Homo sapiens: one gene and its partners. The protein of the gene in region 2 interacts with the protein of the main gene of each other region in a pairwise test. Each region holds a gene or a part of one and is shown on either strand. Other genes may lie near its edges.

Region 1 (8,736 bases), on a different chromosome or scaffold from region 2:
TCGGCCTCAGCCTCCCAAAGTGCTCGGATTACAGGCATGGGCCACTGCGCCCGGCCTCTTTCTTTTTTTTAAAGAGACAGGATCTCTCTGTGTTACCCAGGCTGGACTCGAACTCCTGGGCTCAAGCAATCCTCTTGCTTCCCAAGTAGTTGGGACTACAGGACCATACCACTGCACCCAGCCACTCTCACCATTTCTCTTCAATGTTGTATTGAAGATCCCAGATGCTGCAATAACATGTGAAAAAGAAATTAAAGGGCCAGGCACACTGGCTCATGCCTGTAATCCCAGCACTTTGGGAGGCTGAGGCAGGAAGATCACTTGAGCCTAGGAGTTCAACACCAGCCTGGGCAACATGGCGAACCCCATCTCTACAAAAAATACAAAAAAAAAAAAAAATGAGCCAGCCATGGTGGCACGTATCTGTAGACCCAGCTACTCAGGAGGCTGAGATAGGAGGGTGGCTTGAGCCCAAAAGTTCCAGGCTGCAGTGAGCTATGATGGCGCCACTAAACTCTAGCCTGGGAGAGTGAGACGCTGTCTCAAAAAAATAAAAAATAAAAAGAACTCAAAGCACAATCCATAAAACAAAAAGTTGATTGACTGGACTTCATCAAATTTTAAAACTTCCACTCATCAAAATACTGTTAAAAAAAAGATAAGGCAAGCTACAAAACAGGAGAAAATACTCTTAATACTCTGATCTGACATAGAATTTGTATCGTGAGTACATTAAGAATTCCTGCATATCAATAGTAAAAAGATAATCCATTTTTTAATGGGCAGAAAGCTTGAAGAGGCATCCTACGAAAGAAAATATACTGTCAACAACCATGCAAAAAGGTGCTCAACATCACTAGATATCAAGGAAATCCAAAATAAAACCACAATGAGATACCCTTCCACACCCACTAGAATAGCTAAAATTAAAAAGATTGACTAACCAAGTGTTGGTGAGGATGTAAAACAACTAGAACATTCATATATTCAGGTGGGAATATAAAAAGGAAAACCACTTTGAAAAACTAGTTTCCTGTAAAGTTAAACACACATATGCCTACAAACCAGCAATTCCATTCCTAGGTATTTACTCAAGAGAAATGAAAACACACACTTGCAAAAAGATCTGTATAGGCCTTATTCATAATAGTCAAAAACTGGATTCTACCCAAATGTCCATCAACAGAAGATAAACTGTGAAATATTCCCCCAATGAAATATTACTTAGCAATAAAAACTGATACATCCAACCCCATGGATGAATCTCAAAATATGTTAAGCAAAAGAAGCCAGATACACAAGAGCACACACTGTATGAAGATAGAACAAAACTAATCTACATTTAAAAATCAAAGAGTGTTTGGAGGCAAAAGAAATTGAATGGAGAGAGCAACAAGGAAACGTTGTGGGGTAATAAAAATGCTCTACATCTTCTTGTGGTTATTGGTTACATGTGTATAATCATCACACCTCATCAAAGTGAACAGCTAAGATCTGCACATTTTACTGTATTTTAATTACACCTCAATAAAAATAAAATTTTATATTTCTAAATAAATCTGTGAGCTTAATATTGTATTAATTTTCCTTGTCTTGGGTTGTCACATATATGTTTAGTATATATACATTATTACACATATTCAATAAATATTCATCATCTACAATGCGCTGAAATCTTTGCTAGATCCCAAAGTAACTGCAAGTCCATGGCCTCAAGAAGCCCACCTCGGCCTCCTAAAGTGCTGGAATTACAGATGTAAGCCACTGTGTGTGGCTGCCAGCATTTTCTTTTATTTCCTTATAGGTCCTTTGAACCCCCCAAACAATGAAATGTTCTAGCATCCTATTGTTAGACCCTTTGTCTCTGTGTCTAATTGATAGTTCTCTGCTTATTAACAGCTCAGTTTGGTTTATTCACGTGTCCAAAGTTCTCCTTTTCATCTTCTATTCAGGACCCAATAGGAAGGTTTTTCCAATACCTAACTCTTCTTTTAGGGAATGCATGGTGGTTCTTTCTCCTTCTCACAGACTCTGTGTATACCTCTATTGTGGAAATCCCATGCTATGTGTTACTATTTGTTTAAGTATGTGGTTCCTTCTACATAGTTGTGTTTTGAAACCCCCAGAAGGATATAACATAACATTAACATATATAAACTTTTGTGGGAGTCTAGGAATGAGGCAAATGGGGAAGGAATGAGAGGTTTTTTATTGTGTATCTTTTTCCTTTTTGCCGTCTTACTTTTGGAGTATATATGTGCATATAATTTAAAATAATAATAACCTTTAAAAATACTATATCAGAATCAACAGGATTTGGTAACTTATGTAATGTGAGAGTTAGGGGAGATGGAGAAGTCAAGATGACTCCCAGGTTTCTAGCATGATGATAAACCTAGTCATGTCATCCCCTACAACATTTTTTTTTTTAAGAAAGAAATCTGTTATTAATCAAGGTACAAGTTGGAAAGATGTTAAAGAGTAAGAGAAGGTAGATCAGTTTGGGATATATTGTACTGGAGGTGTTGTGTCCAACAGTGCACTAGAAAAAGAAGATGGGAAATTCAGGAGAATGGTCAGGGGACATAGTTGTTACTAGAAGCCTTGGAGAAGAAGACACGTATATGAGGCTAATTTATCTAGGAATTACTTATTCTGTAAGACCAATTAACAGGGATGAAACCAAGACCCACAGAATAAACTAAAAAAGCAACTATATCAAAACGACAGCGTAAGACCATATATTGGTATCCTTTTCATACAGACATCAGGCTCTCACTAAAAGATTATTTACTAATTTAGTCCCCCAGGTTCATAACAGATTAGAAACATCAAAAAAAGGTGTAGGAATAGCTTCCAGAGGCAATCATCTGGCAGCAGCATGAGGGTACAAAAACAAAAACAAATAGTTTAAGACTTCAAAAAGCATTGCATTCTTTACTCTTCATTAAAGCCAGAAATCCCATCTTTCCATCATCTAAGACTTGGTCAAAATGGTTGCTCCTTCAAGAATTTTTTCATAGTTCCTGTACTCTCAGAGTAACATGACTAATCTCCATTTGTCAAGTTTCCAATTCCAAATATTGTATTGAGCCCTTCCTGAAGGCACTAACTATACTCTGGCTTGTTTTATAAGTATTTTTATACCAGCCTCTTTCCTCCCACTTGAATATACATCTCTTGATTGAGTATCTTTCATCTTTGTATCTCTAGCCAGCACTGTGCACCACATCCTTGCACAGTATGGAAGTATGCAAACATCCATTCAGTAATTATCCCATTTTTGCATTCTCTAAAACTATGTAAATGGACTTTGCCACACAGTCTCCCTGCAAAAAGTTATAACTGCTTTTTTACTGTGTACTTACATTTTGGCACCAACCTAAGCATTTGACCTGGCTTATCCCAAACACTAAAGAAATAAGGGGTGATGGGAAGTGACAGCTAGTAGGTTCGGGGGTTTTATTTTTATGCTTTTTAACCAGCATATAATTGTACATGTTTGTGGGTTACATGGTGATACTTCAACATATACAATGTGTAATGATCAAATCGGGGTAATTAACATATCCATCACTTCAAACATTTATCATTTATTTGTGTTGGGAACATTCAAAAGCCTCTCTTCTAGCTAGTTGAAAATATGTAACAACAACACAGGTTTGAACTGTGCAGGTTCATTTATACATGGATTTTTTTCAGTAAAAGTTACAGTGCGCCTCCCTCTCCTGCCTCCTCTTCCACCTCCTCTCTCTCTTCCACCTTGCCACCCTCGAGACAACAAGACTAATCCTTCCTTTTCCTCCTTCTCCTCAACCTATTCAACAGGAAGACAAGAAGGCTGACGACCTTTACGATGATCCACTTCCACTTAATGAATAGCAAATATATTTTCCTTCCTTATAATTTTCTTAATAACATTGTCTTCTCTCTAGCTTGCTTTAAGAATACAGAATGGAGGCCAGGCGTAGTGGCTCACACCTGTAATCCCAGCACTTTGGGAGGCCAAGGCGGGCGGATCACCTGAGGTCAGTAGTTGAAGACCAGTCTGGCCAACATGGCGAAACCCCGTCTCCACCAAAAATACAAAAATTAGCCGGGCGTGGTGGCAGGTGCCTGTAATCCCAGCTACTCCAGAGGCTGAGACATGAGAGTCGCTTGAACCCATGAGGCAGAGGTTGCAGTGAGCCGAGATCGTGCCACTGCACTCCATGTGTTAACTGACTGTTTATGTTATCAGTAAGGCTTTCAATCAACAGTAGGCTATTACTACCAAAGTTCAGAGAAATAAAAGTTATATGTGGAGTTTCAACTGCACAGGGGTTGGTGCCCCTAACCCCTTCGCTGTTCAAGGGTCAGCTGTAGTCACCCAGTACAACACTAGAACTTATTCTTCCTATCTAGCTAAATTTTGTAGCCTTTAGCCAACCTCTCTCTATCCCTTCTCACCTCTTGAGGAGCCCCCATAATATTCTCCGTAATGGCTCTACTCATTTACATTTGGTTTGGCGTTTTTCACAGAAGACAAAAATGTTCCAAAATCAGACTGTGATGATGGCTGCACAAACCTATGAGTATCCTAAAAAATAATGAATTGTGTATTTTCAATGGATTATGGTATGTGAGTTGTATCTCAATAAAGCTGCTTTTAAAAATGAGGTTTCTGCTGTTAGTCCCACTGTTCAGATTAAGAAGTTGAGATTTAGTAAGATTAGGTAATTGCTTGTTTAGCTAGAGGAGATAAAAACCCAAGCTGTCTTGACTCTTAAGTCTATATGCTTAAATTAACCACCATGCTCTTCTGCATTCCTTAGAAAGGGACCCCACTTATCAAGCATCACATCCTGATATATCATAGGAGCATATATTGTGATATATGCTCCTATGTTCAAGTCTTAAATGCCAGTGACCTTCCGAATTCCAACTACAGCTATAAAGACTTGACCTATTTATGTTACCCCAGAAGGCTAGGAGAGTCGAAAGCTGAAAGGAATAGTACCAAAGAGACAGAGGGGGAAAAAGTGCTCAAGAGCTTCTACTTAGGCCAGGGCGCAGTGGCTCACGCCTGTAATTCCAGCACTTTGAGAGGCCAAGGCGGGCAGATCACCTGAGGCCAGGAGTTCGAGACCAGCCTGGCCAGCATGGTGAAACCCTGTCTCTACTAAAAATGCAAAAAATTAGCCAGACGTGGTGGCGTGCACCTGTAGTCCCAGCTACTCAGAAGGCTGAGGCAGGAGAATCGCCTGAACCTGCCAAGGCCGAGGCTGCAGTGAGCCGAGATCACACCACTGCATTCCAGCCTGTGCAACAAGTGCGAAACTCCGTCTCAAAAAAAAAGAAAACCAAAAACTAAGCACACCTCATCTCTGGGGCATTTGAAATACCCAGGTCCAGGCTGCCATGCCTGACAGGAAAAGAGGAGAAAACCAAATGACAGTATGAATAAAAATGAAATGATAGTTGAAGGTGGGAGGGAGAAGTGATGAGACAGGATAAGCAGATGGTACAAGGTGGGGTTGACTCTATACAAAATTTATTTGCCCTGACTCTCAAATCTCCCTTCCTGTGTGTCGCTTCAGCTTCTCTTCTACCTTATGTTTACACCAAGTCAAGGGCTTTCAATACTCTCATACTGACCCAGAGTTGTTCAAAGCCAGGTGCTGTAGCCTCTCCATTCAGAGCATTGCTCCCCGTCAAGGTGCCATGAGCCCCAAAATATTTTTCCTCTTCTTAAAGTCCCACTTCTCTCAGACCATCTTAGCTCTTAGGTAAGGGTGAAGGTAGGTGGTGGGGGCAGCAAGTAAATTAAACTAGCATTAAACCACTTGATTAAAGAATATGTTGCAAATGGCCTCCCCCTAATAAGCATATAAACAAATGTTTACCTTCACTCACAAAGAAATACAAACCCAAAACAAGACAAATTTCATATATCAAATTGGCAATATAGTTTTTTAAAGTCCAATGTTGGTAAATACATGTCACAGGCATTCTCATACGCTGCTGGTCAATGTAAACTATTACAACGTAGTACTACTCAACAGGAGTCAGAAAAAATAAATTATGTTATAATAAAATATTCTTATTATTTCTTAATTATGTTGATCTGTATGTGCCAGTATGAAAAGAGCTTGTGACTTAACTAAGGAAAAAAGTAAATCACAGTTAAAAAATAAAACAGTAGGCCGGACGTGGTGGCTCATGCCTGTAATCTCAGCACTTTGGGAGGCCGAGGCGGGCGGATCACGAGGTCAGGAGTTTGAGACCAGCCTGGCCAACACAGTCTCTACTAAAAATACAAAAATTATCTGGGCATGGTGGCACACGCCTGTAGTCCCAGTTACTCAGGAGGCTGAGGAAGGAGAATCACTTGAACCCAGGAGGTGGAGGTTGTGGTGAGCCAAGATTGCCCCACTGCACTCCAGTCTGGGCAACGGAGCGAGACTCCATCTCAAAAAATAATAATAATAATAAAATAAATAAATAAAATAGTAAATTACAGTACAACAGTATAACAATACTCTTTGTACAATTTTTTTTAAAGTAAACTTTTAAGAAACTGTTAACAGTGGATTACCTGTGGGGGGAGGAAAAAAGTAACATTTTTTACTCTATCATTAAATTTTTTTTTTTTTTACCATATACCTGTATAACTTTTAACTTAAAATACACAATTCTTTAGGTACTCTATTCCCCTAATAGAGTACTTAAGGCCTGCAACTCTCACCCCTGCAATTTGCCCAGCATCTTGCCCCTGCAACTTGCCCCTGCAACTCTCACCCCCACACCCAACCCAAAGCATCCCATATCTGAAAGCTAACTGAAACTACCTGGTAGAACTTCAGCTACTAAATAATATTTTGGAGATATGGAGCTTTCCTTTAAAATATCTTCAATTACTTCCCTAAAATCACCTCTGAGGAGAAAGAATCCTATCTTACCTAAGGAAACACAAAATCTCATTTCTTTTCAGGTCCCTAACCATCCTCTTCTAGAGAAAGACAATGGTCTTGGTTATAAGAGCCCCTCCTTCTCCTTATGGGATCTAATCTTGGCTAATTTCACTCTCCCACATAAAAAGAGCAACCTCAACTGCCACTGAAAAGGAAGGAGGGCCTGCTCCTTCGGAACTAAGTAACAGCAGAGATCCTACTCTCTGGTCTGTCTCAGCTCTCATCACCTTGCTGTGGATGGCCAACCACTACTCTGCACTTCTATAGGACAGGGTGTCTTCAGTCCTGTTTAGTGCATCATCCCTGGTACTGTATGTATATGGAAGTTTTGTACCTGTTCATTTTAATTGAATCAGGTAATTATCCGTCAAAAAAGAGAATGGCAGGCTAGTGGAATACTTTTAGTCCTTAAAAAGATGCCTCAAAATAGTTTCTTACTTTAATCAGTCTTTCCCCCAAGCCTGTTAGCTTTTATGTTTTACATAGCTAAACCAAGTATTTTTAATTACTACTTATTATTAATGTCTAATTATTAGAACACAATGATTATACTTTTTAAACCTCAAAGGCTTTAAGATTTGAACAAATAAATTTTATTCATCTAAGTTTTATTATCATGATTTTTTCACTGTGCACGATCACTCATGCCAGCTAAAACAATTACAGTCTCAACACAGCAAATTTATTCTTAATTCTGAACTAATTAATGAGAAAGGATTCTAAAACCTTTTTCAAGTAATGGGGGAAATGGTTAGAATCAAGTGGTTGTAACAGAACAGTGTGAGGAAAGGGCTTCTTACCTCTACTCTCCAAGGAGTCAGAATTGCGAACCATTTGGCAGCTTCTTAAAAAGTAAATACACTCTCAGAGAAACTACTGGGCTTGTTTTTAAACTAAGTATTTTTGGAATCTTTAACATTCCCGAACAGGAATACGAAAACCAAGTAAAACGCCTATTGTAACTAGAAGTGACAGATGACTTGTGTAGCAAACTGAGTTTAAAAATGAAAAAATACACGCATACTCATGCACGCACTATATCTTGTAACAAAACAAAGGTCAATACTAACTTTCCCAAATTACTCTTAGAAGTTTCACAAAGAATAAATAAATGCCATGTCAAGTAATGTTACATAAAGAAAGACGGCTCCCGGAGACAGAGACCTACAAGAGGCTATCTTCTGAGACAACCTAAATGGACTGAATCCTAAACAGAAATTATTAAAAACCAGACGCTGAAACAGACGGCTAACCACAAAACTTTATTCTTGGTTAAATGAATAAAAAGGTGAGAAGGGGATGGAGGGTAATGTACTACCCTGAATTTTTATTAATAAATATTGCTAAATCCTGAATAGAACAAAAAAAGACAATGGGGAAACTTCTAAGCTTCCAGGATATCTTAAGGGCTGCCCCAGTTCCACCACATGAATATGACTGTGACCTCAGATAAATCAATGAAATTAAAATCTGAACCTAATTTCTCATGTATAAGTGAGTTGGAGATCATCCTTAAGTTTTCTTGTTGCTCTTTAACACTAACAGAGGAAACACAAATGTATTCTTTTCCAATATACGTTATATACAGTCCATGTCATTCAAGAGTCCGTATGCCAAATCATACTGAGCACTCCTGTTAGTTCTAAGGCAGTCTCTAAATTTCCCAAGAGGTAAAGCAGAAAGAATACAGCTTCCCGAAATATTCCTTCCCCACAAAGTTTTGGGTATTTTCTACCATTGCACCCCTCTCCAGGGCAAGCCCTGCCTAATACAGAGTATCACT
Region 2 (8,736 bases):
AGCCACTGTGCCCAGGCTAGACCCATACTTTTGGATATCTACATCTATTTTACCATTCTTAAACCCATGGATACCCAAAGTCTCCTATTGTTGGCACGTTCAAACTTTCCACCTTCATTGAACAAATAGGCATTTGAAGCTGTGACATAAGAGTACTGTCTGATGGTCAGTTTTTGTCAGTAACCATTTTTATCTGAAGCACAATGGAATTAGTTGAATATTTGATTCCGTTTTGTCCAGATTGTATTAAAATTAGAAAGCAAACTTATAAGTGATAGTGTGTTATTGGTCTCATAAACTTGACAGTTTTGACAAATCTTTTACTTAGTATAATACTAAAACTACAAAGAGCTTAAAAAAAAAAAAAAAGATGTGCCTACAGTTGTACCATCCCAACCATATTCTGACAACTTTTTATTTTTTGAGGGGGATGGAGTCTCGCCCTATCGCCCAGGCTGGAGTGCAATGGCGTGATCTCGGCTTACTGCAACCTCCACTTCCTGGGTTCAAGCAATTCTCCTGCCTCGGCCTCCAGAGTAGCTGGGATTGCAGGCGTGTGCCTCCACACCCAGCTAATTTTTGTATTTTCAGTATAGACGGGTTTCACCATGTTGGCCAGGCTCGTCTCGAACTCCTGACCTCGTGATCCACCCACCTTGGCCTCCCAAAGTGCTGGGGTTACAGGCGTGAGCCACTGCGCCCGGCAACTTTTTGTTCTTATAATATGCCTGAAGATTTTTGTATAGTTTAATCATGGAATATGATCTGCCCCACCCTGCCCCACCTATACTATTACATCATATTTTTCTTGTTGCTAGAGTCCTAATTACCAAATTAATAGGCACCTAATATTTGAGTTGATATGTCTATATATTTAGCTCAATCAAATATAGATTGTTTTAAAATTTTCACTATAAGTAATACAGTGGCTAATACCTTACTAATAAATGGATAATGTCATATAGCAACGTAGCTTACAGAGTTTGGAGGCAAGCTTGCATGCTATGGAGTCTACCAGAGAGTCATTGAAAGCAGAACTGGGAACTGATTTGCTTTCTCAACTGAGTTTGGAAGATCAGAAGAGAGTAGATGCACTGAATGATGAGATTCGTCAACTTCAGCAGGTAAGTAGACAGCTGACTGGAAAAAGAATTCGTTAGTAATTGGCTATTGTGAAAAGGGCCTTTCTTGCTAACTAGGGCAATATGAAAGAAAAGAACTGAGAAAATATTAAAATGAGGCTTGGACTTTTAATATACATAGGAGTAAATAAGATTTTGTTTTTCTAAACCAATCTAGCTAGGTTAGGATTATACAAGAAATTTTCATTTCCTTAAAATTTAGTTAATTAGCATTACTTATTAGTTGTAAGTATTGCTATGAGTTTGAGCTTGTTAGCCTTACCATATTTATCTTACTGCCTTTACATATTTAATGTTTTGATCAAGCATTTTAATTGATTTTTAAAACTGCATAGATGTAAACTACCAACACCGATTCTAAAAAATGAAAAGCATTTAAAGAAACTGTTTTTGACAGCATGCGTTATAAAAAGGGCCAGCCACAAAAATTTAACATTATGAATTGATAAGAGAAAAATGAAGAAAGTATAGGGCTTTTTTGAAGAATATAACATATTAAACTTCATTTCAGCTCACATGAGCACAAGTACTAGAGAGGACAGCAAATGAGCACCATTCCTGTGTGTGAAATGTACATGCTTATATAGACAACTTTTTCTTAATTCTAGGAAAACAGACAGTTGCTAAATGAAAGAATTAAATTAGAAGGTATTATTACTCGAGTAGAGACTTATCTCAATGAGAATCTGAGAAAACGCTTGGACCAAGTAGAACAGGTGTGTATGTGTTTTTTTTTTTTTTTTTAAGGGCTCCTTGGTGGCCATGACCTATTGCAAGTGGTTATATCAGAGGCTCTGATTGAAAGCATGGGCTTTGGGGACAGAAAGCTTAGTGTCTTGTGGGCCTTGGGTTGGAATTCTGCCACCTAGTGTGTGATTTTGGACAAGTCACTATTTCTAAGCCTCAGTTTCTTGTGTGAATTAAGCATTATCATACTTGTTTTATATAATTGCTATCCTGACACATTCTAAGTACTTTGTTAATATTTTTTCAGTGGTGGTTAGATGCTTAGAAATTTTCTAGTAATTGTGTCTTTTTTTTCTTCCCTTTAATGGATACTTCTAAGTATTTGTAATTATATGATGTATTTATATTTTTTTGTTTTCTTGAATGTTTATTCAGACAATAGCCATAGAAAATGTTGGCAGTCATAACATTTGAAACTAATGGAATTTGTATTTTTTGTTACAGGAACTTAATGAGCTGAGAGAGACAGAAGGGGGTACTGTTCTCACAGCCACAACATCAGAACTTGAAGCCATCAATAAAAGAGTAAAAGACACTATGGCACGATCAGAAGGTGAATTTTTATGTAGTAAAATTTTGTTTATATGCATGTTTTATAAAATTGTTTACTACAGAATGAAATGTCCAAATAGGCAGAAGCATATGCTAATGATTTTTTGTTTTCCATTATAAACAATGTATAGCAAATGGAATTTAGGAAGTTGACTATAAATAGTAACTTTTGTTTTACTGAAATGTTTATGACAATTTTGAGACCATAAATGATTCATTTTGTTGATAAAATATGAAATACCTGACGAAAGTTTCTCATCACTTAGTTGTTAGAAAATAACTATAGTTTATAAGCATTAACATTGAATAATGAAAATTATATATTTGAGTGACTCATATATACTTCTAATTTTGTACTGACTTAACATGGTTCATAAATTTTCACAGAAAATTTTAAACACAAAACCTAAAACCTATTTTGGTAGGTTTGATCATAAAAATCTATACTCAACATATAACACTGGCTTTATAGGTATTATAGCCTAATTTTGTTTCCCCCCATCTTAGATTTGGACAATTCCATTGATAAAACAGAAGCTGGAATTAAGGAGCTTCAGAAGAGTATGGAGCGCTGGAAAAATATGGAAAAAGAACATATGGATGCTATAAATCATGATACTAAAGAACTGGAAAAGATGACAAATCGGCAAGGCATGCTATTGAAGAAGAAAGAAGAGTGTATGAAGAAAATTCGAGAACTTGGATCACTTCCCCAGGAAGCATTTGAAAAGTACCAGACACTGAGCCTCAAACAGGTTGGTTTTAAATTTGAAGTCTTGTTACAAATTGCTCAGTATATAAATTTATTTATATGAATACATATTTTCTCTTTATAGTTGTTTCGAAAACTTGAGCAGTGCAACACAGAATTAAAGAAGTACAGCCATGTTAACAAAAAGGCTTTGGATCAGTTTGTAAATTTCTCCGAGCAGAAAGAAAAGTTAATAAAGCGTCAAGAAGAGTTAGATAGGGGTTACAAATCAATCATGGAACTGATGAATGTACTTGAACTTCGGAAATATGAAGCTATTCAGTTAACTTTCAAACAGGTATGTTTCGCTTTGTAGTTAAAACATACACACAGAGGACAAAAGCTTCCAGCTCTTTTCAGTTTGTAAAGATTTTAAAGCTGTTTTCCTCATTACCAGGTGAATCTAATACATGTGAACAAACCTAGCATATAGGTTTACAGTAACTTGAATGTTTTACACAGCCCTTAGAAGGATCTAGTCTGTTATCCTTGTTCTTAAGATTAAAAAATAATTGGTTGCTTTTAAATATTTTACTTAAGTGTTATATATAATTCTAAGCAAAATTTATATTTCAATCTGCTTTTGTTTTAAGGTATCTAAGAACTTCAGTGAAGTATTCCAGAAGTTAGTACCTGGTGGCAAAGCTACTTTGGTGATGAAGAAAGGAGATGTGGAGGGCAGTCAGTCTCAAGATGAAGGAGAAGGGAGTGGTGAGAGTGAGAGGGGTTCTGGCTCACAAAGCAGTGTCCCATCAGTTGACCAGTTTACTGGAGTTGGAATTAGGGTAAAATACCTTTATATTCCATTTTCCTCAGAGCATTACCATAATAGAATTTATAGTATCTTTTGCAAATCTGATTGGTGCATTATATGCAAGTTACTTTTGAAAGATGGTGGTGATTCTGCCCTTTAGGATATTAACTCATAATATGTTTATTTTTAGGTGTCATTTACAGGAAAACAAGGTGAAATGAGAGAAATGCAACAGCTTTCAGGTGGACAGAAATCCTTGGTAGCCCTTGCTCTGATTTTTGCCATTCAGAAATGTGACCCGGCTCCATTTTACTTGTTTGATGAAATTGACCAGGCTCTGGATGCTCAGCACAGAAAGGCTGTGTCAGGTACAGTTTCAGTACAGTTTTGGTTTTGTATTTAACAATAAGCTGGTAATATTTGCTGATGTATATATGAAAAAATCAAACTCAGGCAGTTTTGAATTTTAGTAAGAGTAAAGATAGTTGCTTTTTAAATTTTCAGATCTGCTGAAAAGAAATTTGTTAAAGCACAATTTTCTTTTTACAGATATGATTATGGAACTTGCTGTACATGCTCAGTTTATTACAACTACTTTTAGGCCTGAACTGCTTGAGTCAGCTGACAAATTCTATGGTGTAAAGTTCAGAAATAAGGTAATTTTATTTTACATTGAGTTTAAGTTTGTATTTATTCAATTATATTTGTTGAATTCTGATTTTATGTTACTTAAATAGTGAAAGAAAACTTAGAAAGTCTTTGCTTATCTGATGTCTTTGTAAAGAAAGAACTTTTCCTTCAAATAACTATGAAGTTTAGCAGTATTTTATGGCGTTGCATTGGTTTTATTTTCATTGGCATTAATAAACAATATCTTTCTGTCCAGTCTATTCAATGCTTCTGTAATGCACAGTCTTTAACAATTATATATGTTCATTTGTATAGACTGCATAGCTCTTCCTGGGTGTCTTCCCAACCTTAAAATTCTTGATGAAATAGCAAAGTAATAGAAAGTGAACAAAAAGGTAGTTTAGATGTTTAGGCATGATATTTATTTCTTCAGAGCATTAAAATACATATTTTTTAAATCTATGCATTGAACAAACACCACTGTAAATAAAGGTTTTATAAGTCAGTGCTTCAGAATTATTTTCCTTCATATGTAAAATATAGGTGATAGGCCGGGCGCAATGGCTCATGCCTGTAATCCCAGCACTTTGGGAGGCCAAGGCAGGTAGATAACCAGGTCAGGAGTTTGAGACCAACGTGGCCAGTATGGTGAAACCCCCGTCTCTACTAAAAATACAAAAATTAGCTGGGCATGCTGGCGTGCACCTGTCGTCCCAGCTACTTGGGAGTCTGAGGCAGAATAATTGCTTGAACCTGGGAGGCGGAGGTAGCAGTGAGCCAAGATGGTGCCACTGCACTCCAGCCTGGGCAACAGAGCAAGACTCCATCTCAAAAAAAAAAAAAAAAAAAAAAACTAAAAATTAAAAAATGTAGTTAAATGTAGTTGATAGGCTGTATATATTTACCCTATACAATGTAAACACTGATGTAATTAACAGATTTTTGTTTTTAACATTTATTCTTCAGGTTAGTCATATTGATGTGATCACAGCAGAGATGGCCAAAGACTTTGTAGAAGATGATACCACACATGGTTAATTGGAAAATACTACCTACTGGTTTGGGAGATGTATATAGTAATATGATTCTCATACCCAGGAACTGTAAATTTAAACCTAAATATTTGGCCAATAGTTTTCAGACTTAAAGCATCATAGTCCTTTTATATTTGTCTTTGTATTTTATAAGATACTCTGTAATGTCATGTTTGTACTGATAGTTTAAGAATTTAATTTCCTGTACAACTTTTTGTAAAATGTTCTGCTCCTATTTTAAATGTTTTGAAACATGCTAAATATTCTTTCCTAATTATTTTATCACTTATACTACCTTTTTTATAGCTTCAATTAAATAATCGGTTTTATGACTAATATAGTGTTTTATGTGGCTTTTCATTTGTCATAGTCTCTTCCAGTGAGAACACTAATCAGATTGGATGTAAGGCCTCATTTTAACTTAATCACCTCTTTAAAAGACCTGTCTCCAAATACAGTTAAATTTGAGGTATTGAGGGTTAGGACTTCAACATGTGAGTTTGGGAAGGGAAGCACAAAATCAGCCCCTACCATGGTATATTTATCATTGATACATTACTATCAACTAAGCTCAAGATTTTATTCAGATTTGACTAGTTTTTCCACTAAGGCCCTTTTTCTTTTCTAGGATCCCACAGAGGATACATTACATTTACTTACATCTCCTCTAGTCTGTGACAATTTCTCTGTCATTGTTTATCATATCTTGACAATTTTGAATAATATTCACATATTTTGTAGAATGTCCCTCAAATTAGGTTTGTCTAATATTTTTCTCATGGTTAGATTGGAGCTAATACCACAGAAGCGAAGTATTCTCATTACCTCATATAATAGTACATATTATTAACATGTTTTATCACTGATGTTTACCTTGATCACCTACCCAACATTGTACTTGCCAGGTTTCTTTGTTGTGAAGTTACATTTTTTTCCCTTTCCATACTACTCTTTTCTTTGAAAGTAGGTCTTTAAGCACTGGGGGTCTCCTGTGACCCTGGAAAACTACCTCAATAGTCCTCGTAGCTTTTTGTAGATTCTTTGAGATTTTCTACATAGACAGTCATGTCATTTGCAAGAAAGAGGCAGTTTTATTTCTTCCTTTTCAAATATTTACCTTTAATTTCTTTTTCTTGATTTCCCCTGGCCTGAGTTTATACTGGTTATCTGCAGGAGAATTTGTTAGGAGCTACTCTTCCATCATTGGAAACCAGAAATACCTAAAGAGATACTTTTAAAATAAAGAAATAGTAATGGGACTTTAAATTGAATTTAAAAATGTGAGTTTACTTTGGGTTTTCATTTTGACTGGCTGAATCTTTAAATGTTCGGTGTATTATTTATACTTTGTAGCTTTGCTATAACATAACTGATCTATAATAGAGAATTTGGTATATGTTCTATCTATGACTACATTCAAAGGGTTACGTAACTATAATATCTTTCTAATATTTCTACCATTTTTCTTACACATTTACCCAAGAATTTTTCTCAAACAACTACCTAAGAATATTCATCATGAATGCTTGGTGTATAGTTTACGATTTGTAGAGTTGCTCTGATATGACCAACCCCTTATAATACAGAATTTGGTGTAAGGTAAGTTCCAGGATTCAATTCAAGGGATGTTACAAACATAACATCATTCTAGAACTTCTTAATATTGTTCTTAAGCATTTCCCCAAGGATATTAGTATAATGAAATGCCAGTAAATTTATAACAATAAAGCATCTAAATAATGAAACAAAATTTTTGTAAAAGCCTATATTCTTTGCGATATCTTAGTCATGAATTAATTCTAATGAGACTGAATAGAAAAATGTGACAATCCTGAGCATGCTTAACCCAGAAACTTAGAGGAAGGACAGACATTTACCCAAGGAGTTAGCCAGTGATTCATAAGAAAATCTATGCTTCTCTTTGGCTGGATAGTCCTTTCCTCAGAGTAGTACTGATTCTTCCACTTTGAGATTTTGTTAATACTGTTACAAATACATTACATTCACCATAGTGGAATTGAAGAACATATATTTTAAGAGATGGTGGGGGGGGTCTCATCCCATCACCCACGCTGGAGTGCGGTGGCAGGATCACAGCTCACTGCAACCTTGAACTCCTGGGCTCAGGTGATCTTCTGCTTTGGCCTGCCAATATTAATATTTTGGGGCATTTCCTTCAAATCTTCATAAAAAGTTTTGTGGTTTATGTTTATTCTAGGTGTATAATTTTATATCTTAGATTTTTAATTTAGTAATAATATAAAATATTCCTGTTTTAATGCTTTGGAAACAAGATTTTAATAGTCATATACTATTCTGTCAAGTAGAAGTAGCATAATTTACTTAAATATCCCACTGGAGGCTTAGATCGTTTTCTTTTGGCTAAAGTACCAAAAATGAATTAAAAAACAGATCAACATTTTTATACATAAAACTCCCAACATTTAGGATTATTTTCCCAGCGTAGATTCCTAGAAGTCAGAGTGTGAATATTTGTAAGGATTTTTGTATACTCTTTATGCTCTTTTTGAAAAAAATGTAAAATATGAAATGGTTAGTATGTAGGTTAAGGATTTGTCTACTCAAAATTAGTGAAATAGTAATTTTAGAAAATGATGTAATTTATAGAAATAATTTTACTGTGAATAATATAATCAGTAGAAAAGGGAGAAATAGAAAGGGAGGATTTCTTTTTTAAGAGTAAGCAATAGCCGGTCGGGCACGGTGGTTCACGCCTGTAATCCCAGCACTTTGGGAGGCCAAGGTGGGTGGATCACAAGGTCAGGAGATCGAGACCATCCTGGCTAACCTGGTGAAATCCCGTCTCCACTAAAAATACAAAAGATTCTCCGGGCGTGGTGGTGGGCGTCTGTAGTCCCAGCTACTGTGGAGGCTGAGGCAGGAGAATGGCGGTAGCCCGGGAGGCAGAGCTTGCAGTGAGCCTAGATCGTGCCACTGCCCTCCAGCCTGGGCGACAGAGCGAGACTCCATCTCAAAAAAAAAAAAAAAAGCAATAGCAAACGGGTCTTTGGAAATATTTAGTTAATTCTTAAAAGGTGTTTCTCTTTTAACAACTATCTAGGCCAGGCGCGGTGGCTCGGTGCCTGTAATCACAGCACTTTGGGA
Region 3 (8,736 bases), on a different chromosome or scaffold from region 2:
AAGCTGGGTGGATCACTTGAGGTCAGGGGTTCAAGACCAGTCTGGCCAACATGGTGAAACCCCGTCTCTACTAAAAATGCAAAAAATTAGCCGGGTGTAGTGGTGGGTGCCTGTAATCCCAGTTACTCGGGAGGCTGAGGCAGAATTGCTTGAACCTGGGAGGTGGAGGTTGCAGTGAGCTGAGATTTTGCCACTGCACTCCAGCCTGGGAAACAAGAGTGAAATTCCCTTTCAAAAAATAAAGAAAAAAAAAATTTCAGGCTGGGTGTGGTGGCTCACGCCTGTAATCCCAGCGCTTTGGGAGGCCGAGGTGGGTGGATCACTTGAGGTCAGGAGCTCGAGACCAGCCTGGCCAACAAGATGAAACTCCATTTCCACCAAAATATAAAAAGTTAGCTAGGTGTGGTGGCACGCACCTGTAATCCCAACTACTCAGGAGGCTGAAGCAGGAGAATTGCTTGAACCTGGGAGACAGAGGTTGCAGTGAGCCAAGAGCTTGCCACTGTACTCTAGCCTGGGCAACAGAGTGAGATTCCATCTCAAAAAGAAAAGAAAAGAAACAAATTTCACTCTATCCATCCCTCCGTTTAAAAATCAAGAAATGCCTGGCGTGGTGGCTTATGCCTGTAATCCCAACACTTTCGGAAGCCGAGGTGGGTGGATCACGAGGTCAGGGGTTCGAGACAAGCCTGACCAACATGGTGAAACCCCGTCTCTATTAAAAATACAAAATATTAGCCAAGCCTGGTGGTGCACGCCTGTGACCCCAGCTACTCAGGAGGCTGAGGCAGGCGAATTGCTTGAACTCAGGAGGCGGAAGTTGCAGTGAGCCAAGATCGCGCCACTGCACTCCAGCCTGGGCGACAGAGCAAGACTCCATCTCAAAAAATAAATAAATAAAATAAAAATAAAAAGGCCAGGCACAGTGGCTCTCTCCTGTAATCCCAGAACTGTGGGAGGCCAAGGCAGGCAGATTATGAGGTCAGGAGTTCGAGACCAGCCTGGCCAACATGGTGAAACCCCGTCTCTAACTAAAAATACAAAAATTAGCTGGGTGTGGTGGCAGAAGCCTGTAGTCCCAGCTACTCAGGAGGCTGAGCTGAGATTGCGCCACTGCACTCCAACCTGGCAACAGACCGAGAGACTCCATCTTAAAAACAAACAAACAAACAAACAAAAAAAACACCAATAATTATCAAGGCCCTCTTACCTCCAAAGTAGCAAGAAAGAAAGAAACAAAGTATGTGTATAGTAAATAGCTCTGTAGTAATCCATGATATAGGATATACTACATAACTAACTTAATTCCATTAAGCCCTTTATGGAATTTGCACAGCTATTTATAAGTGTATTTTATTTTTTTAATTTTTATTGTAAATGAGGTTTTGCCATATTGCCCAAGCTGGTCTCAAACTCCTGAGCTCAAGTGATCTGCCCGTTTCAGCCTCCCAAAGTGCTGGAAATACAGGCATAAGCCAGAGGACACCAGACCTATAAGTGTATTTTAAATGTCACTTATTAGATGTGAACCCTGTATTAGTTTCAGAACCCACAACTATATGGGAGGATGGCTATTTGTGATTCTTTTTTTTTTTTTTTGAGATGGAGTTTCGCTCTTGTTGCCCAGGCTGGAGTGCAATGGTGCTTAGATTACTTAATTATAATATTAATTTTTTTTTTTTTTTTGAGACAGAGTTTCACTGTTGTTGCCCAGGCTGGAGTGCAATGGCACCATGTCGGCTCACCACAACCTCCGCCTCCTGGGTTCAAGCGATTCTCCTGCCTCAGCCTCCTGAGTAGCTGAGATTACAGGCATGCGCCACCACACCCGGCTAATTTTATATTTTTAGTAGAGACAGGGTTTCTCCACGTTGGTCAGGCTGGTCTCGAACTCCCGACCTCAGGTGATTCACCCACCTCGGCCTTCCAAAGTGCTGGGATTACATGCATGAGCCACTGTGCCCGGCCTGTAATATGAATTTTTTAAAAAATCACTTGCTCAGTGTATGCTTTTACTTTTTTTTTTTCTCGTGACAGAGTCTTGCCCTGTCCCCCAGGCTGGAGTGCAGTGGCGTGATCTCGGCTCACTGCAACCTCTGCCTCCCAGGTTCAAGGGATTCTACTGCCCCAGCCTCCTGAGTAGCTGGGATTACAGGCATGTGCCACCACACCCAACTAATTTTATATTTTTAGTAGAAACGGGGTTTCTCCATGTTGGTCAGGCTGGTCTTGAACTCCTGACCTCAGGTGATCCGCCCGCCTAGGCATCCCAAAGTGCTGGGATTACAGGCGTAAGCCACCGTGCCAGCTATTTGTGATTCTTAATGTAACAATGATACTAAACTATTGGCCATCCTTCCACATAGCTAACTTTAGTATGGTTTTAATATTTGTCAATTAATATATAATTGTAACTTCTATTATCTAAGTAGCAGAAGTTAATGACACTTTTCAGCTTTAGGTGACTAGCGTTGTTCACAACCTATCAAATGGTCAGTTTCTTCACCTGAAAAATTAGAACAGAAATACATAACCTCTGAACTACCTGTTGACTCCAAAATTCTAAGTACTGTACCTATGTTACCATCTCTAAGACACAAACTCCTTAGTTTGAAAAGTCCTAGCCAGGCAGAGTGGCTCACGCCCTAATCCCAGCACTTTGGGAGGTCGAGGTGGGTGGATTACCTGAGGTCACCAGTTCGAGACCAGCCTGACCAACATGGTAAAACCCCGTGTCTACTAAAAATACAAAGTTAGCCAGGCGTGGTGGTGGATGCCTATAATCCCAGCTATTCAGGAGGCTGAGGCAGGATAATCACTTGAACCCAGGAAGCAGAGGTTGCAGTGAGCCGAGATCAGGCCATTGCACTCCAGCCTGGGCAACAAGAGCAAAACTTGGTCTCAAAAAAAAGGAAAGTCCTTAGCTGCAATTTGAAATTTTTTCAAATTATCCTTTACTTTCAAAAATAAAAATATTTCTCTAATTCAGTATTAATACAAAATATTCATTCATTCACTTAACAAGTATTTGTTCAGCACCCAATTATGTGCCAGGCATTAAGCTTGGCACTGAGAGGAATGAAAAACAGACACGGTATCTGTATTAATAAGGTTTACAGAGAAGCTAAAGAGACAAACCAAATAAATGTATGGATAAATGTAATATGAAGGAGTTGAAGGGTATGTAATGTAGAATCTTTTTTTTTTTTTTTTGAGACAGAGTCTCGCCCTGTTGCCCAGGCTGGAATGCAGTGATGTGATCTCGGCTCCAAGAAAAAGGGTTTCACTATGTTGGTCAGACTGGTCTCGAACTCTTGACCTCGTGATCCACCCACCTTGGCCTCCCAAAGTGCTGGGATTACAGGCGTGAGCCACCGCGCCCAGCCTGTAATGTAGAACCTTAAAGGCTTCCCTTAAGAAGTAACAAATGAATGACAAATGAACACATGGGCTATTTAATGTAAGGAACCTGTCTAGACAGAAATAAACATGGCATGTTCAGGAAACCAACCGAAGACCACTGTGGCCTGACATAACAAAAATAGGTAAAGTAATGCCCTGGAAACAGGAATGAAAAGCTCTAGTATAGGAAAACATATCTTAGCTCTTTCAAAGACATACTCTAAGAATTATTGTCAACGAAGCTTCAAAGCTTCACAATAGTTTCTCTCAAATGCTTAAAAAAAAAAAAAAAGCTGTCCTTTTTCTCCCTACAAAAGACCAAACTCACTCTCATTCTCTTCACATTTCACTGTAATGTCTTCAACTACATGATAAAAGTTACAACTTTTTAGTTCTACTTAGTTTAGATTCCTTAGAAGAAAGCAACTATATAACAACCAAAGTAAATATGGCGTTATTGCCCCTGCCCTCTGCCACTAAACTGCCCTGTGACTGATTTTGGTAAAGGTTACTTGAATACTTTGGCCTAACTTTCATTATCTGTGAAGTAAGAGGAGGTTCCAGAATTTCCTTTAAGATCCTTCTAATTCTAAGATTATGGTTCCACTGTAAAACCGCTTGTTCCTTTTTTTTTTTTTTTTTTTTTTTTTAAGACAAGGTCTCACTCGGTCACCCAGGCTGGAGTGCAGTGGTAGGATCACGGTTCACTGCAGCCCTGACCTTCCTGGGCTTGAGTGATCCTCCCACCTCACCCTCCTGAGTAGCTACGACCATATTTGCATTTTTTGTAGAGATAGGTTTTTGTCATGTTGCCCAGGCCTATCTCAAATTCCTGGGCTCAAGTGTTCCTCCCACCTTGACCTCCTGAAGTGCTGGGATTACACAGGCATGAGCCACCACACCCAGCCTTGTTCCATTCTTGAAAACTGACGAGAACAGGACCAAACACCGCTGAATTCCTTTGTAATTGCCTTTAAGATGTTTTTTGTTTTGTTTTGTTTGTTTGTTTTCGAGACAGAGTCGCGCTTTGTCACCCAGGCTGGAGTGCAGTGGTGGGATCTTGGCTTACTGCAAGCTCCGCCTCCTGGGTTCATGCAATTCTGCCTCAGCCTTCCAAGTAGCTGGGACTACAGGCCCCGCCACCACGCCTGGATAATTTTTTTGTATTTTTAGTAGAGATGGGATTTCACCTGTGTTAGCCAGGATGGTCTCGATCTCCTGACCTCATGATCCACCCGCCTCGGCCTCCCAAAGTGCTGAGATTACAGGCGTGAGCCACCGCACCGGGCCTGCCTTTAAGGTCTTTTTTAATGAGACAGAGTCTCACTCTGCTGTCACCCAGGCTATAGTGCAGTGGCATAATGCCTCACTGCAACCTCTGCCTCCTGGGTTTAAGTGATTCTCATGCCTCAGCCACAGGAGTAGCTGAGATTACAGAGGTGTGCCACCACACCTGGCTAATTTTTGTATTTTTAGTAGAGATGGGGTTTCACCATGTTGGCCAGGCTGGTCTCGAACTCCTGAGCTCAAGAGATCCACCTGCCTTGGCCTCCCAAAGGGCTAGGATTACAAGCATGAGCCCCTGCGTCCGGGCTTAAGCTCTCTTTGTGTTTGTACAGCATTTCAACACTGTTGCTATGTTATAATAATAATAAACTCCTGAATTTATAAAATTATCAATAACTAAGATTCTAATAAAAAAACAAAATTTCAAAAATACTTAAGTATTGTTAAAAATCTACATTTCCAATGAGACATAATACTTTAAAGAAGGATCCCTAATTAAGTACAAAGTCAAAATAGAAAGGAAGGCAGAAGAAATACAAAATCAAAAGAATTTTTCAGAAAACATTTTGGCAGTAGGACATTGAAGTTGGTTGATATGAACGTCGATTTTAACTTCCAAAAGAACTCATAACAAATGGATAATCAAACTCGATGCTCATTCTCCACTGGATTGTATGTCCATTTATAGTTAACAGTACTTCTGATAATCGATTTTCAAACAGAAAATGTACATAAGTAGTCATAACTTTCCCAACACACCTTAAAAAAATAATATTGAGACACGGTTGGCTGGGCGCGGTGGCTCACGCCTGTAATCCCAGCACTTTGGGAGGCCGAGGTGGGCGGATCACGAGGTCAAGAGTTCGAGACCAGCCTGACCAACATAGTGAAACTCCGTCTCTACTAAAAATACAAAAATTAGCTGGGCATAGTGGCACGCACCTCTAATCCCAGCTACTTGGGAGGCTGGGGCAGGAGAATCGCTTGAACCCGGGAGGCGGAGTTTGCAGTGAGCCAAGATTGCACCACTGCATTCCAGCCTGGGCGACAGGGCGAGACTCCGTCTCAAAAAATAAATAAATAAATAAAAAATAAAAATAAAATTGAGACAGGGTCTATGTTGCCCAGGTCTGAACCTCCTGGGCTCAAATGATCCTCCTGCCTCAGCCCTCAAAATGCTGGGATTACAGGCATGAGCCCCTGTACCCAACCACAACTTTCCTTTTTTTTTTTTTCACTGTTTAAGGAATTTTTTATTAAAAAAAGAATTTTATAATCCAAATTACGCTTCCTTGCTCAGTTATCAATTCTGTTACTTAAAACAGAACTGATATTTTGAGCTATTCCACAGTAAAGATTACAAGGAATGCTTTAAATTTTTGTACTTTGCTGAAAATTATTTTTCCCAGGATCTATAAAACATTAATTTGTCTTTATATTTTATTATTTTTTGTGGGGTTTTTTTTGTTGTTTGTTTTTAAATCAATAAGTAATCTAGGACTAATATTATGTTTGCTAGACCTGGCATTTGCTCGGTACATAATGTTCAAAGTTTCCTTTCCTTTTTAAATTTATTTTATATTTTGCAATTTTTTTTTCCATATTTAAGTTTTTCGATGTTTAGATATTTTTCTTTGGTGAAGCACAAGTTTCTTTTCGTGGTCTCTGATCAATTTTAAACAGCAGGAACACCAATGGCACTGTTAACTGCTTTCTGGGTAGCCTCTTTAGCTTGGTGGGCTTGTAATATAGCTAGCTTCATGAACCTTAGAACAGAGTGACTCTGGACTCTCGAGCATATGAACATTTGCTTTTGCTCTTGAGGGGCAGATGCCAACATGGAAGCAGTCAAAGGTTCCTGACCTTGTACATGAACAGCAGGCTGTTGCATTGTAACTTGTGGCTGTGCATTAAGATGTTGCTGAGGATTGCGAACTCCCGCAGCATATTTATACTGTGGAACGGTGTGGACAGCAGGAGTAGCTGCAGCCAGCAGATACCAGGGTGTTAATATTTACGTGAAAAATCTTGATGATAGTATTGATGATGAACGTCTCCAGAAAGAGTTTTCTCCATTTGGTACAATCACTAGTGCAAAGGCTATGATGGAGGGTGGTCACAGCAAAGGGTTTGGTTTCGTATGTTTCTCCTTCCCGGAAGAAGCCACTAAAGCAGTTACAGAAATGAACGGTAGAACTGTGGCCACAAAACCATCGTATGTAGCTTTAGCTCAGCGCAAAGAAGAGTGCCAGGCTCACTTCACTAACCAGCATATGCAGAGAATGGCAAGTGTACGAGCTGTGCCCAACCATGTAATCAACCCCTACCAGCCAGCACCTCCTTCAGGTTACTTCATGGCAGCTATTCCACAGACTCAGAACCGTGCTGCAAGACCGGGCGCGGTGGCTCACGCCTGTAATCCCAGCACTTTGGGAGGCCAAGAGGGGCAGATCACGAGGTCAGGAGATCGAGACCATCCTGGCTAACACGGTGAAACCCGTCTCTACTAAAAAAATACAAAAAATTAGCCGGGCATGATGGCGGGCGCCCGTGGTCCCAGCTACTCGGGAGGCTGAGGCAGGAGAATGGCGTGAACCCGGGAGGCGGAGCTTACAGTGAGCCGAGATCGCACCCACTCCAGCCTGGGCGACAGAGCGAGACTCTGTCTCAAAAATAAATAAAAACCGTGCTGCATACTCTCCTCCTAGCCAAACTGCTCTACTGAGACCAAGTCCTCGCTGGACTGCTCAGGGTGCCAGACCTCATCCATTCCAATATGCCAGGTGCTATCCCCAAGCTGCTCCTATACCACCACTTAATACTATGAGACCAGCTTCTTCACAGGTTCCATGAGTCATGTCAACAGAGCGGTTGCTAACACATCAACTTTCCATTTTTTAACCAAATTATCCAACATTAGAATTCAAGGTTTCAATATTCTTAATTTGAAAACAATAAATATTAACGATCCATCAATTGTTTAAGTTTTATATTTCATAATTTCTCACTCCCAAAACAGTGTAACTTTTAGAAGCATCAATCAAGCAGCTCAATTCATGTATAATCTTTAGTATCAATATTTGCTTTATTTATTTTATTTTACTTTTTTGAGATGAAGTTTCACTCCTGTTGCCCAGGCTGGAGTGCAATGGCGCGATCTCCGCTCATCAAAACTTCCGCCTCCCGGGTTCAAGCGATTCTCCTGCCTCAGCCTCCCAGTAGCTAGGATTACAGGTATGCGCCACCACGCCCAGCTAATTTTGTATTTTTAGTAGAACTCCAGACCTCGGGTGATTTGCCTGCCTCGGCCTCCCGAAGTGCTGGGATTACAGGCTGGAGCCACCACACCAGGCCCAAGATTTGTTTTAATGAAAGGGGCTGGGAGCAGTGGCTCACACCTGTAATCGCAGCATATTGGGAGGCCGATGCAGGCAGATCATTCGAAGTCAGGAGATCGAGACCAAAGTGACCAACATAGTGAAATCCCATCTCTACTAAAAATACAAAAATTAGCTGGGCGTGGTGGCAGGCACCTGTAATCCCAGCTACTAGAGAGGCTGAGGCAGAATTGCTTGAACCCGGGAGGTGGAGGTTGCAGTGGGCCGAGACGCGCCACTGCACTCCAGCCTAGGTGACAGAGCAAGACTCCGTCTCAAAAAAAAAAAAAAAAAAAAAATTTAGCCGGGTGTGGTGGCACACGCTGGTAGTCCCAGCTACTTGGGAGGCTGAGGCAGAATAGCTTGAACCTGGGAAGTGGAGGTTGCAGTGAGCTGAGATCCCGCCGCCGCACACAGATTTGTTTTAATGAAAGGAACTGTTGTCTTATTCCTTCCAAAAAGGCAACAAATTGCAGAACCAAATTAAGAGTCTGAAAACTAAACCACAGGAATATTTTAAATACTGTACTCATTAAAATGCAACATTAGGTACATTTACTGGGCTCCAAGAGCAAGAGGCCAAGCTCATTCCCTAAAATACATTTGGCCAAGTGGCCCAAGGTGGAAACATTGTCAACAATGTTGCTTCCCTCACCTCCCACCAATTCTG

The links. Proteins that work in one complex are often made in the same cells at the same time.
Region 1: the proteins of SMC3 (region 2) and PDS5B interact in binary tests that used the Homo sapiens proteins (3 or more experiments, as listed by UniProt).
Region 3: the proteins of SMC3 (region 2) and PDS5A interact in binary tests that used the Homo sapiens proteins (3 or more experiments, as listed by UniProt).

Annotation. Positions count from the first base shown.
Region 1 is NC_000013.11:32,588,864-32,597,599, reverse strand, and holds part of PDS5B (sister chromatid cohesion protein PDS5 homolog B), read right to left. Parts: intron 1-8,736. UniProt on the Homo sapiens protein: Regulator of sister chromatid cohesion in mitosis which may stabilize cohesin complex association with chromatin. May couple sister chromatid cohesion during mitosis to DNA replication.
Region 2 is NC_000010.11:110,598,689-110,607,424, forward strand, and holds the end of SMC3 (structural maintenance of chromosomes protein 3), read left to right. Parts: intron 1-965; coding exon 966-1,124; intron 1,125-1,750; coding exon 1,751-1,858; intron 1,859-2,333; coding exon 2,334-2,442; intron 2,443-2,948; coding exon 2,949-3,196; intron 3,197-3,277; coding exon 3,278-3,490; intron 3,491-3,785; coding exon 3,786-3,977; intron 3,978-4,136; coding exon 4,137-4,314; intron 4,315-4,495; coding exon 4,496-4,602; intron 4,603-5,542; coding exon 5,543-5,614; 3' UTR 5,615-7,360; downstream 7,361-8,736. UniProt on the Homo sapiens protein: Central component of cohesin, a complex required for chromosome cohesion during the cell cycle. The cohesin complex may form a large proteinaceous ring within which sister chromatids can be trapped.
Region 3 is NC_000004.12:39,966,764-39,975,499, forward strand, and holds part of PDS5A (sister chromatid cohesion protein PDS5 homolog A), read right to left. Parts: intron 7,577-8,736; exon of another isoform or gene 7,372-7,576; intron 7,068-7,371; exon of another isoform or gene 6,680-7,067; intron 1-6,679. UniProt on the Homo sapiens protein: Probable regulator of sister chromatid cohesion in mitosis which may stabilize cohesin complex association with chromatin. May couple sister chromatid cohesion during mitosis to DNA replication.